3 linked regions of the Homo sapiens genome follow. The protein of the gene in region 1 purifies or fractionates together with the protein of each later gene. This does not show direct contact. Each region holds a gene or a part of one and is shown on either strand. Other genes may lie near its edges.

The links.
Region 2: the proteins of LRSAM1 (region 1) and DENND6A fractionate together in Homo sapiens (co-fractionation; one large-scale study listed by BioGRID). This does not show direct contact.
Region 3: the proteins of LRSAM1 (region 1) and HSPBP1 fractionate together in Homo sapiens (co-fractionation; one large-scale study listed by BioGRID). This does not show direct contact.

What each region holds. Positions count from the first base shown.
Region 1 is NC_000009.12:127,454,510-127,458,009, forward strand, and holds part of LRSAM1 (E3 ubiquitin-protein ligase LRSAM1), read left to right. Parts: 5' UTR 1-18; coding exon 19-90; intron 91-488; coding exon 489-545; intron 546-1,066; coding exon 1,067-1,111; intron 1,112-2,806; coding exon 2,807-2,884; intron 2,885-3,500.
Region 2 is NC_000003.12:57,654,999-57,658,725, forward strand, and holds part of DENND6A (protein DENND6A), read right to left. Parts: intron 2,738-3,727; coding exon 2,682-2,737; intron 1,498-2,681; exon of another isoform or gene 1-1,497.
Region 3 is NC_000019.10:55,263,007-55,266,733, forward strand, and holds part of HSPBP1 (hsp70-binding protein 1), read right to left. Parts: intron 3,281-3,727; coding exon 3,125-3,280; intron 2,977-3,124; coding exon 2,880-2,976; intron 2,384-2,879; coding exon 2,272-2,383; intron 1-2,271. UniProt on the Homo sapiens protein: Inhibits HSPA1A chaperone activity by changing the conformation of the ATP-binding domain of HSPA1A and interfering with ATP binding. Interferes with ubiquitination mediated by STUB1 and inhibits chaperone-assisted degradation of immature CFTR.

The sequences.
Region 1 (3,500 bases):
CTCTGGGAAAAGGGAAGGATGCCGCTCTTCTTCCGGAAGCGGAAACCCAGTGAGGAGGCTCGGAAACGCCTGGAGTACCAGATGTGTTTGGTGAGGGAAAGTGGGTTTCCTCTAACTCTATCCCATCTCCTCCTCGGTCCCCATGGAGTAGGCCTCCGCACTGCCCCCAACAAGCCGTGCTCCTTCCCATCTGCCTCCCCCACCCACAGAAGAAATATTTGACTTAGACCCAACAGATGAGGCCCCCTGCCAAGGGTGCTTCTCCCCTGTAGACTGAGCGCACTGTCATTGCTTTTCAGTTCCTCATCCCTCTGGGCCTCAAGCTCTGGGAAAGCAGGGGTCATTGGTTCACCTGCCAAATGGACCAGTGGAACCAGATAGTGTCTATGGTCCTTTGCAGCTGCTTACATTTATGTTCTTTGCCTGGCTTGTCCACTCTGCAAAGGTGTTTTGTCTTAATACTTTTTAAAAATTCTTTTTATCCTTAGGCAAAAGAAGCTGGGGCAGATGACATTCTCGACATCTCTAAATGTGAGCTCTCAGAGGTAAACTGAGGATAGTGTTGGGCTGTGAATTGGATCTGTCCCGTTTTCTTGGATCTTGTGTCCCTAGGAAAGACAGAGGTGGACTGGGGCTTTAGAAAGGCCAGAAGCTCTAGTCACGAGATGTTTCCTTAGATTTTGTTCTCGTCCAAAATAATTGAAGATGATCCTTTGGCCTCAATATAACGTAGTCTCCAAGAGTCAAGGAGTCTAGGTAGAAAATGTACCCATAGACTCCTACATTGCTGGAAGGGCCTGGCATTCTCCAGCCCCTGAAGGGGTTCACAATGGGGACAGGGTGGGTGGGGCAGGGCAGTCTCCTGCCAGCTGACCGAGGGAAGGGCTGGCCACATCCCCAACACCACTGCTTGCCAGCCTTGCCCCTGGGCTCAGCACTGCCACCTGCTGTGGCGTTTTGCCCTTGTTCACCTCCTGCCTGTCTCTTCCTCACGTGAATGCCACTCAGAGAACAAGCTAAAAACTGGCAGGAGGGGAGACACTTACTCTTCTTTATCTTATCTTAGATTCCATTTGGAGCTTTTGCAACATGCAAAGTTCTGCAGAAGAAGGTAAGATGGAGCTTCATCTTCAGAGACTTTCTTGTTGCATGTCTGCTTGTTTGAACCCACAAGGGACTTTGAGGAGCTGTCTTCCCGGCGTAGACACCTCCTTTCTCTCTGCTTCTTATGCTCTTGGCCTGCAGCAGGTGTTTTCACAGATAGGAGAGTAGGCTTTGGGGTTGGACCTTCCTGTGTCACATTCTAACTCTGCCCTCACTGGCTTCATGACTTGGGCAACTTCCTTAAACTCTTACTTCTCAGTTTCTTCCCCTGTGAAATGAAGACATTCATAGTTCTCCTTCCTGAGGTATTGTGAGAATTAAATGAGTGGTAGATAGCTAGATAGAGATAGAAATATACTGAGTGTACATGCCTACCACGTAGTAAAGGCTTATGAACCCCGGTGTTAGTAATAATAGAAACTCACGCCTTTTATTCTGGTCACCCAGGGGAGATTCAGAGGGGAGTGAATGATTTTTCAGCAGAGCATTGCAGCTTTGAATGCAGATGGGTAGAAGCGCTCTAAGTGAAGTATCTAAATGAGAATATGCAAAAAAAAAAAAAAAAAAAAGTGTTCCCTGCCAACAGAGTAGTGAGCTCCTTGGCGCTGGAAGTTTTGTTTGTTTTTTTTTTTTTTTGAAGACGGACGCTCTGCTCTGTCACCCAGGCTGGAGTGCAGTGGTGCAATCTCAGCTCACTGAAACCTCCGCCTCCTGGGTTCAAGCAATTCTCCTGCCTCAGCCTCCTGAGTAGCTGGGATTATAGGCGCCCACCACCATGCCCAACTAATTTTTGTATTTTTAGAGATGAGGTTTTGCCATGTTGGCCAGGCTGGTCTCGAACTCCTGACCTCAAGTGATCCACCTGCCTTAGCCTGCCAAAGTGCTGGGATTACAGGTGTGAGCCACCACGCCCAGTCTGTGCTGGAAGTGTTGGGCCGCAGTCAATGCCTAAGAAAAATGCAGTAGATTGGCCGGGTGCGGTGGCTCATGCCTGTAATCCCAGCACTTCGGGAGGCCGAGGTGGGCAGATCACGAGGTCAGGAGATCAAGACCATCCTGGCTACCATGGTGAAACCCGGTCTCTACCAAAAATAAAAAAAAAATCAGCTGGGTGTGGTGGCATGCGCCTGTAGTCCCAGCTACTCGGGAGGGCGAGACAGGAGAATTGCTTGAACCTGGGAGGCGGAGGTTGCAGTGAGCTGAGATCACACCACTGCACTCCAGCTTGGGCGACAGAGCAAGAGTTGGTCTCAAAAAAAAAAAAAAAGAAAAGGAAAAATAGCAGTAGATGACCTGGACTGAGCCCTGGCCCCTCTGCCAGCCCTGGAAGTTTTGCGCATGAGCTTTTATTTAACATCATGGCAGCCCTGGGAGGCAAGCACTTTATTATTCTCTATTTTCCACGTGAAGACGCTGGTGCTGGGAAGGTTATGATCAGGATGGCTGCAGGGGGATCCCTTCTCAGATGGAAGGAAGATGTAGACCTCTAAGGTCTCTTTCACCCTTGAAGATCCAGGTTTTAAGGAAGGGCATTAGATTCCCCATTGGGAGAGTTCATGATACTGACCCGCATCCCCGTGGTGGTGTCTGGGAGAGCAAGATGGTGGGGCGTGGCACGGCGCTGGGCTGGCTCCCACGCCCTTAGCCTGCCCTGCCTGCTGCTCTTCCTCAGCCCAGCATGGCCGCACATCTCTCCACACAGGTGCTGATCGTCCACACGAATCACCTCACTTCCCTGCTTCCCAAATCCTGCAGCCTCCTGAGTCTGGCAACCATCAAGGTACTGGGCCCTCCTCCCAGGCAGCTGGGGCTCTGCATGGGGTTCCACGCGGCAGCTGAGCGCCTGCTCCTTTTGGGCTGCCTCTTGCATGTCAGAGGGGCCCAATCTACCAGTCAGTCTGGGATTTGATCAGTATGGTTTACTGGATACTTCTGTGGGCTGTGTGTGGGTTAGGGTGACAAAGATGACCAGCCACAGGCCCTGTCCCTGGGGAGTTTACATGCCAGGAGGAAAGCCAAGTGACAGCCTCATGGCGAGTCAGCTAGCAGAGGGCGAGGAGACTGATGGTCCCAGGCAAGAAGGAAGAGGAGGGACGCGCAGGTGATCTGGAAGGACTCCCTGCTGACTGTGAGCTCCTCCCCGGATGGGCTGGGAGGCATTCACAACATGTGGGAGGTGTGAGCCCAGGGTTGTTATGCGCAGACCTGAGCTTGGGAGAGTGATATGCACCTTCAGAGGAGGCCGGCAGCACAGGTGTCAGCCCAGCAGCACAGGCCCAATCTGTTATACTATATTGTTTAGGGAATAATGACAAGAGAAAAGCCTGTATGTGTTCACTACAGATGCTTTCTTTCTTTTTTTTTTTTTTAATATTTTGCACCTGAGTTTGGTTGAA
Region 2 (3,727 bases), on another chromosome or scaffold:
TTCAAAATTTGGTTTTCTCATCTCTTGGAAAACAAGAATTTTTTTTTTTTTTTGAGATGGAGTCTCATTCTGTTGCCCAGGCTGGAGTGCAGTGGCACGATCTCAGCTCACTGCAACCTCCGTCTCCTGGGTTCAAGCAATTCTCCTGCCTCAGCCTCCTGAGTAGCTGAGATTACAGGCGGCCCGCCACCATGCCCAGCTAGTTTTTGTATTTTTAGTAGAGACGGGGTTTCACCATGTTGGTCAGGCTGGTCTCAAAATCCTGACCTCATGATCCGCCCGCCTCGGCCTCCCAAAGTGCTGGGATTACAGGCGTGAGCCACTGCATCTGGCGGGAAACAAGAATTTAAAAACAACAAACTTACTTGCCCCACTCTTAAAACAATATTATGTAATTCATATCCAGGAGACAAGACATGTGCTAATCAAAGGTGTTAGTGATGGGGGTAATTAACTAAGGGTTGAGCATCCCTAATGTGAAAATCTACATTACAAAATGTTCCCAAATCCAAAAGGTTTTGAGCATTGACATGATGCCACAAGTGGAAAATTCTACTTATGACCTCAAGGTAAGTCAAAGTCAAAATGCAATCAAAATTTAGTTGCATGCACAAAATCATTAAAAATATTTTTTTAAATTACGTTCAGGCTATGTGTATAAGGTGTATATGAAGCATAAGTGACCCTTGTGTTTAAACTTGGGCCCATCCCCAAGATATCTCATTATGTATATGCAAAAATCCCCAAATGCAAAAAAGTCCAAAATCCAAAACACTTCTGATTCTGACCATTTCAGATATGGGATATGCAAGATTACCACAAAAGCTAAGATAATCAGTAACAAACAATAAAGCGTAAGACTCATACCCAGAAGTTCAAAAGAAAAAATGTCCAATAATTGAACTCTATATTAATTTATGCCAATTCTGCAAATTATTCCTTAATGAGTCAAGTATCAAAACGAGAAATGTACACATTCTTCTTAGTATATTTTGCCTGTAATATTTATTCATTTTGGGGACACTCCCTCTTTTCATCCTAATAATGCCATAACATGTACTTTTTAAGAAAATTAATTTGTTTTAAAAGTCACATTTATAATTTATATGCAGTAAAATTTACCCTTACCAAAGATCTAGAATAGTTCCATCACCTCACGAAATGCCCGCAGCCCTTATGTAGTAGATTTCCTCCCCCAGCCCCAGGTAACCACTGATCTGATTTCTGTCCCTATAGTTTTATCTTTTCCAGAACATCATATAAATGGAATCATTCAGTATCTTTAAATTATCTGGAAACTTTCACTTAGCATAATGCTTTTGGAAGTCTTTCACATTGTTGCATGTATCAACTGTTCCTTCTTTTTTTTAACTGCTGAATAGTATTCCATGTGCATTCATGTATTACATTTTGTTTGTCCATTTACCAGTTGATGGATACTTCGGTTGTGTATAGTTTTATACTGTTATGAATAAAGCTACTATATAGACATTTGCATACAGGTCTTCATGTAGACACATTTTCATTTTTATTGAATAAATACCTAGAAATAGGATGACTGTACTGTGCTAGAGCAACATATAAAACTAACCAATCTTTTTTTTTTTTAAACTAACCAATCTTTTGAAGCAGTATTCCATGTAGTTTACAAGTCATAAAAAACAAACAAAAAGGTCAGCCAGGCGCAGTGGCTCACACCTGTAATCCCAGCACTCTGGGAGGGCAAGGCAGGTGGATCACTTGAGGTCAGGAGTTCGAGACCAGCCTGGACAACATGGTGAAACCCCATCTCTACTAAAAATACAAAAATGTAGCCAGACATGGTGGTGTGCACCTGTAGTCCCAGCTACTTGGGTGGCTGAGGCAGGAGAATCGCTTGAACCTGGGAGGTGGAGGCTGCTGTGAGCCAAGACTGCAGCAGTGCACTCCAGCCTAGGCAATAGAGTGAGACTCTGTCTCAAAAATAAAAGAAAAAAGATCCCACCAAAAAAATCCATTTTAAGTCTTTCATGACTTTTTGAGCATTTCGTAACTGCTCATTTATAGCAGTGGTTTTTCAAGCTGGCCTATACATCAGAACTACCTGGGGAACTAGAACTTGGGTACCAATCCAAAGATTTAGCTGCTCTGGGTAAAGGCACAAACATTACTTTTTATTTTTCCTCTATTTCTTTTCTAAGTGCTAACAGTATCTCTTTTTTGTTTTTTCATTTTCCATGTTGACATTTTTCAAACATACAGAAAAGTAAAAACAACAGTGTGAGAAACATCATATACATATCACTCAGATTTAATGATTAATATTTGCCATTTTTCACGTCATCTATTTTTTCTTACTGAAGTATTTTAAAATAGAACACAAACATCATGACATTTCACTCCCAAATAAAATGCATCTCTTTTTTAAAAAAGCATGTTTTCTAACATTATTACAATATAATTCTCACACTAAACCAAACAAAAATATTTTTACATATAATACATATTCTATATTTAAATTTCCCTAATTGTCAAAGCTTATAACATGTACCCAGGGATGAACCATTGATTTATAACATGTAAAACATAACTATTTTCTTCCAATTTTTTCCACATCCTATATAATATTCATTTTTTAAATAAATTAACACCACCACCACAAAGCAAAAGGAAGTCAGTTAATAAAATTTTTTATTCTTTACCTGAAAATATCCACCTCATGAACAGTAGGTAAAATAACAGATATATTTGTGTCCACCTGAGAGATAGAAAAGAAAAATAAAAGAAGGTATCACCAAAATTTATGGAAAATTTTAAAATATATCTATCTCATGATCAATAAGCCATGCTGCCCTGTCTAACTTTTAAGATTCTCTTCCTTTAGGAACAGCCAGAGAGGGAATGGGTCTTACCAATATTCCCTAATATAGCAGAAAATCAAAAATAATGCAGATAACATGGATAAAGAATTAATCCCGGCCAGGCATGACAGCTCATGCCTGTAATCCCAGCACTTTGGTAGGACAAGGCGGGCGGATCACAAGGTCAGGATATCGAGACCATCCTGGCTAACACGGTGAAATCCCATCTCTACTAAAAATACAAAAAATTAGCCAGGCATGGGGGCAGGCGCCTGTAGTCCCAGCTACTCGGGAGGCTGAGGCAGGAGAATGGCGTGAACCCGGGAGGTGAAGCTTGCAGTGAGCCGAGATTGCACCACTGCACTGCAGCCTAGGTGACAGAGCGAGACTCCATCTCAAAAAAAAAAAAAGAATTAATCCCAAGCTCATGCCTGTAATCCTAGCACTTTGGGAATCCAGGAAGGAGGATCACTTGATGCCAGGAGTTCGAGACCAGCCTGGGTAACAGAGTGAAATCCCATCCCTACAAAAAATATTAAAAATTAGCCAGGCATGGTGGCATGCACCGTAGTCCTAGCTACTTAGGAGGCTGAGGTGGGAGAATCACTTCAGCCCAGGAATTGGAGGCTGCATGAACTACGATTGTGCCACCGTACTCCAGCCTGGGAGACAGAGGGAGACCCTGTCCTTGTTTAAGAAAAAATTAATCCAATAGTAAATCAGATTAATTTGCAACTGTATGAAATACTCCCATTAATACTGGTTGATATGTAACAGAAATACTAGTTTTCCTACTGCTATCTGTTTTTTATTCAATTCAAAGAACAAAGTACAACAAAAAAATGTACACCAGTTAAAACATTTCAAATGAAAACTTCAACCCCACC
Region 3 (3,727 bases), on another chromosome or scaffold:
CCATGAAAGAAAGCACTGAGAGGTTAAACTACGTAATATAAAAAATACTCCCATGGCAAAAAAAGAAAAAGAAAACGAGGTTGGAGAAAAATATTTGTGATTCATAGCACAAATGGCTAATATACTTAACTCTTAAAGAGCTTAAAAAAGTCATTCGCAAAAACCATCACCCAATAAATAGATAAGTGGGCAAAGGATGAGAACGAACAGTTCACAAGAAAGAGAAAAGATGCCAAATTTCACTCATGGGAGAAATGTAAACTGGACTGGAGTACTACTTTTCAACAATCAGTTTGAAAAAAGGTCAAATGGTTCATCGAGGCCACTTTGTCCTGACCAAGATTTGGGGAGTTGGGCACCCTCATGACTGGAGTGTCAATGGTTGAACTTCTATGGAGAGCAGCTTGGTGATAGCTAATGAAACGGCCCTTAACCCTTTAACCTTCACCTTTAACATACCTGACCCCAGCCATTTCCCTTCTAGAAATTGTTCTACAGACATATGTAATAACATATACAAAAGGTTATTCTTTCAGCAGTGTTTGTCATAGCGAGAGTGTAGAAACAACCTGCATATCCATGCTACAAAAAAGAGCCCATCCGCACTGTACAGCTGCAAAATGAAAGAGCCACAGGCGAGACATGCAATGCCCACAAAGCAAGGGGCAGAACAGCCATCACAGCACGGCAGGCTTATTTTGCATAACATAGAGAAAAAGGAGAATTCACATGCACCTTTGCTCGTGTGTACCTAATATTTTAAGAAGGACACCTGAGCAACTGGGTAGCCAGAAGGAGGGGCAGGAGAGAGACTTTTCACTGTTTACCCTCCTGCGGGTCTTGTATTTTCAACCATGTGACTACGGAACCTATTCACAAAGCATTAGTAAAATCTGTTACAAATCTAATTTGAATGTTTCCACGGGTGTATACATAAGTCAAAACTTCTCATGTAGTACACTTTTTTTTTTTTTTTTTTTGAGATGGAGTCTCACTCTGTCGCCCAGGCTGGAGTGCAGTGGCGCATCTTGGCTCACTGCAACCTCCGCCTCCCCGGTTCAAGCGATTCTCCTGCCTCAGCCTCCTGGGTAGCTGGGATTACAAGCACCTGCCACTATGCCCAGCTAATTTTTTGTATTTTTAGTAGAGATGGGGTTTTACCATGTTGGCCAGGCTGGTCTCGAACTCCTGACCTCATGATTTGCCTGCCTCGGCCTCCCAAAGTGCTGGGATTACAGGCGTGAGCCACCATGCCTGGCCATGTAGTACACTTTCAATACATACAGACACTTGACAGTGTCTACACAGGAATGAATCTAATAGAATATAACGTCCCAAGGAGGTGGGTGCGTTTGCTAAGCTCGGCTTTGCTGAAGCACCAGCATTGATTCATTCACTTCAACAAATTAATGCATTACTTAATCAGTTAACTATTTGAATTTTAATTAGTTGTGATTTAGCATTTGTTACTTATCTAGTTATCTAATGAGTTATTTATTTGCCCCTTATCTAATTAAATATCTGATGACTTGTTATTTATCACTTGTTATTTACCCAAAATAATTGGTTATTTTTTGCCATTTGTTATTTCTTGTCAATTTAATGAAATAGTTAAATCATTAAGACATTTGAGTGATATTATATTCAATTTACATTTACTTAATGTAAAACAACTGTATTGGGTAATTTAGATAATAATTCAATGATTGGGCAACACTTTAAGAATCTCCAAGCTCCTGTCTCCTTGCTGTCTCTCCTACTCTGACACAGCACGGGACGAATGCTAGGCATGAAATAAACATCTGCTGAATGGAAGATAAGTGAAATGCACGAGAACACGAATGAAAGCCTGAACCAGCGGACCCAGGAGCCCCCAAGGGCAAGGACTGGCTGGCTCTGCCCCTACTAGGGTCCCCACTACCACACTTGGTCTAACCTGGGGAATTCCTCACCCCCCAGGCCCCTCCCCCTCACACCTGGTCCTCCTCACACCCTGTCCCTTCCCCAACTCACCTGGTCCTTCTGGAGCCGCTGTCCCCTCCCCCGGCACACGATCCTCCTCGAACCCCATCCCCTGCCCCTCACACCTAGTCCTCCTTGCACCCCGTCACCTCCCCGTGTACCTGGTCCTCCTGGAGCCCCTGTCCCCTCCCCCTGGCACCTGATCCTCCTCGAACCCCATCCCCTCCCCACACACCTAGTCCTCCTGGAGCCCTTGTCCCCTCCCCCTTGCACCTGGTCCTCCTTGCACCCCGTCCCCTCCCCATGTACCTGGTACTCCTCATGCTGCTGCAGCAGCTGACAGCGGTGGCGGAGGAGCTCCTCCAGGCCCAGTTCCGGCTCCCGACACTCGCGCACACCCTGCGGAAAGTCTGTCACCAGGCTGTGAGGGACATGACAGCGGCCCTTAGGACCTCCCTCTAGAGGCCTCACTGACCCAACCCTATCGCCCGCCCCGTCCCCTGGCTCACTCAGGAGCCTGGCAAGTCGCTGCCCCACAATGGGCCTCCATTTCCCCATCTGCGGAATGGACCTCACGCTGCCCCTGGCCCAGGGTGGGTGCTGAGGGGCTCAGCACAGGGCCTGGTGCGTGTCAACTCTGGTGTGCTGTTGAGAGCTCCAGCATCATCTGATTAGACACTAATCCACTGGTGGGGGCGTGTACAGAAGCCTCTCTCCCTCCTGCAAGGCCTCTGTGCCAGCCCTACTGGTGAGGAAACTGAGGCTCCCTGACTCCTGCTCCTTTCTGGCCCCACACCCTTCCTCTCTACGGGAAGGTCCCAACTCCTGAGTCCCTACGGGCTGATTCCTGAGCCACCCCCACCTTGAGAGGACGGGGCCCCCACCCCAGGCCCCGTCCTCTCAAGGAGCCAAAGTACCTGCACAGGGCTCCAAGCACGTGCTCGTGGAAGGGGCTGTGCTCTGTCCGCACCAGGGCCACCAGCTGCTGGACCATCCCCATGGAGCACAGGGTCCCTGGGGGGAGGGCTGCAGGGGTCAGAGGGGCAGCCCCACCCATCTCCTATGCCCTCCCCGGGATGCCTGTTCCTCCCCTTCTCCCACACCTGCACCCACCCCAGGGCGTCTGCTCCCCACTCCTGCCCTCACTCAAGGGCTGCCACACCTTTGTGTTCAGGGTGGCCCACCAGCAGGTTCTGCAGCAGGAATGCTGATTTGACCTTGAGCTTCTGCACCTGCTGCTGCATGGCCCTCATCAACACAGAGAAGCCGTCCAGGCGGAGGAACTGCAGCAGCCCAGCCTCCTGCTCTCGGACCAGACCTGGGAGAGGGGGAAAGGTCCTGAGCTTGCAGTCACCACCACCACCACTGTCATCACAAGCACCATCACCAACATCATCACAACCACCATCACCAACATCATCATCACCACCATCACCACTATCTTCACCACCATCACAATCATCATCATCACCATTCTCATCCTCACCACCATCACCATCACCACCATCCTCACCACCACCACCATCACTATCACCATCACCACCACCACCATCACCACCACCATCATCACCATGACATCACCAACATCACCATCACTATCACCATCACTATCACCATCACCACCACATCACCATCACCGCCATCATCATCACTACCATTAACAATATAATTATCGTCAATCATCGTCACCATCATCACCACCAACCACTATCATCCCTTGCCATGGGCCTGCATATGCAAGCATTATCTTTTTTTGAAGTATGCT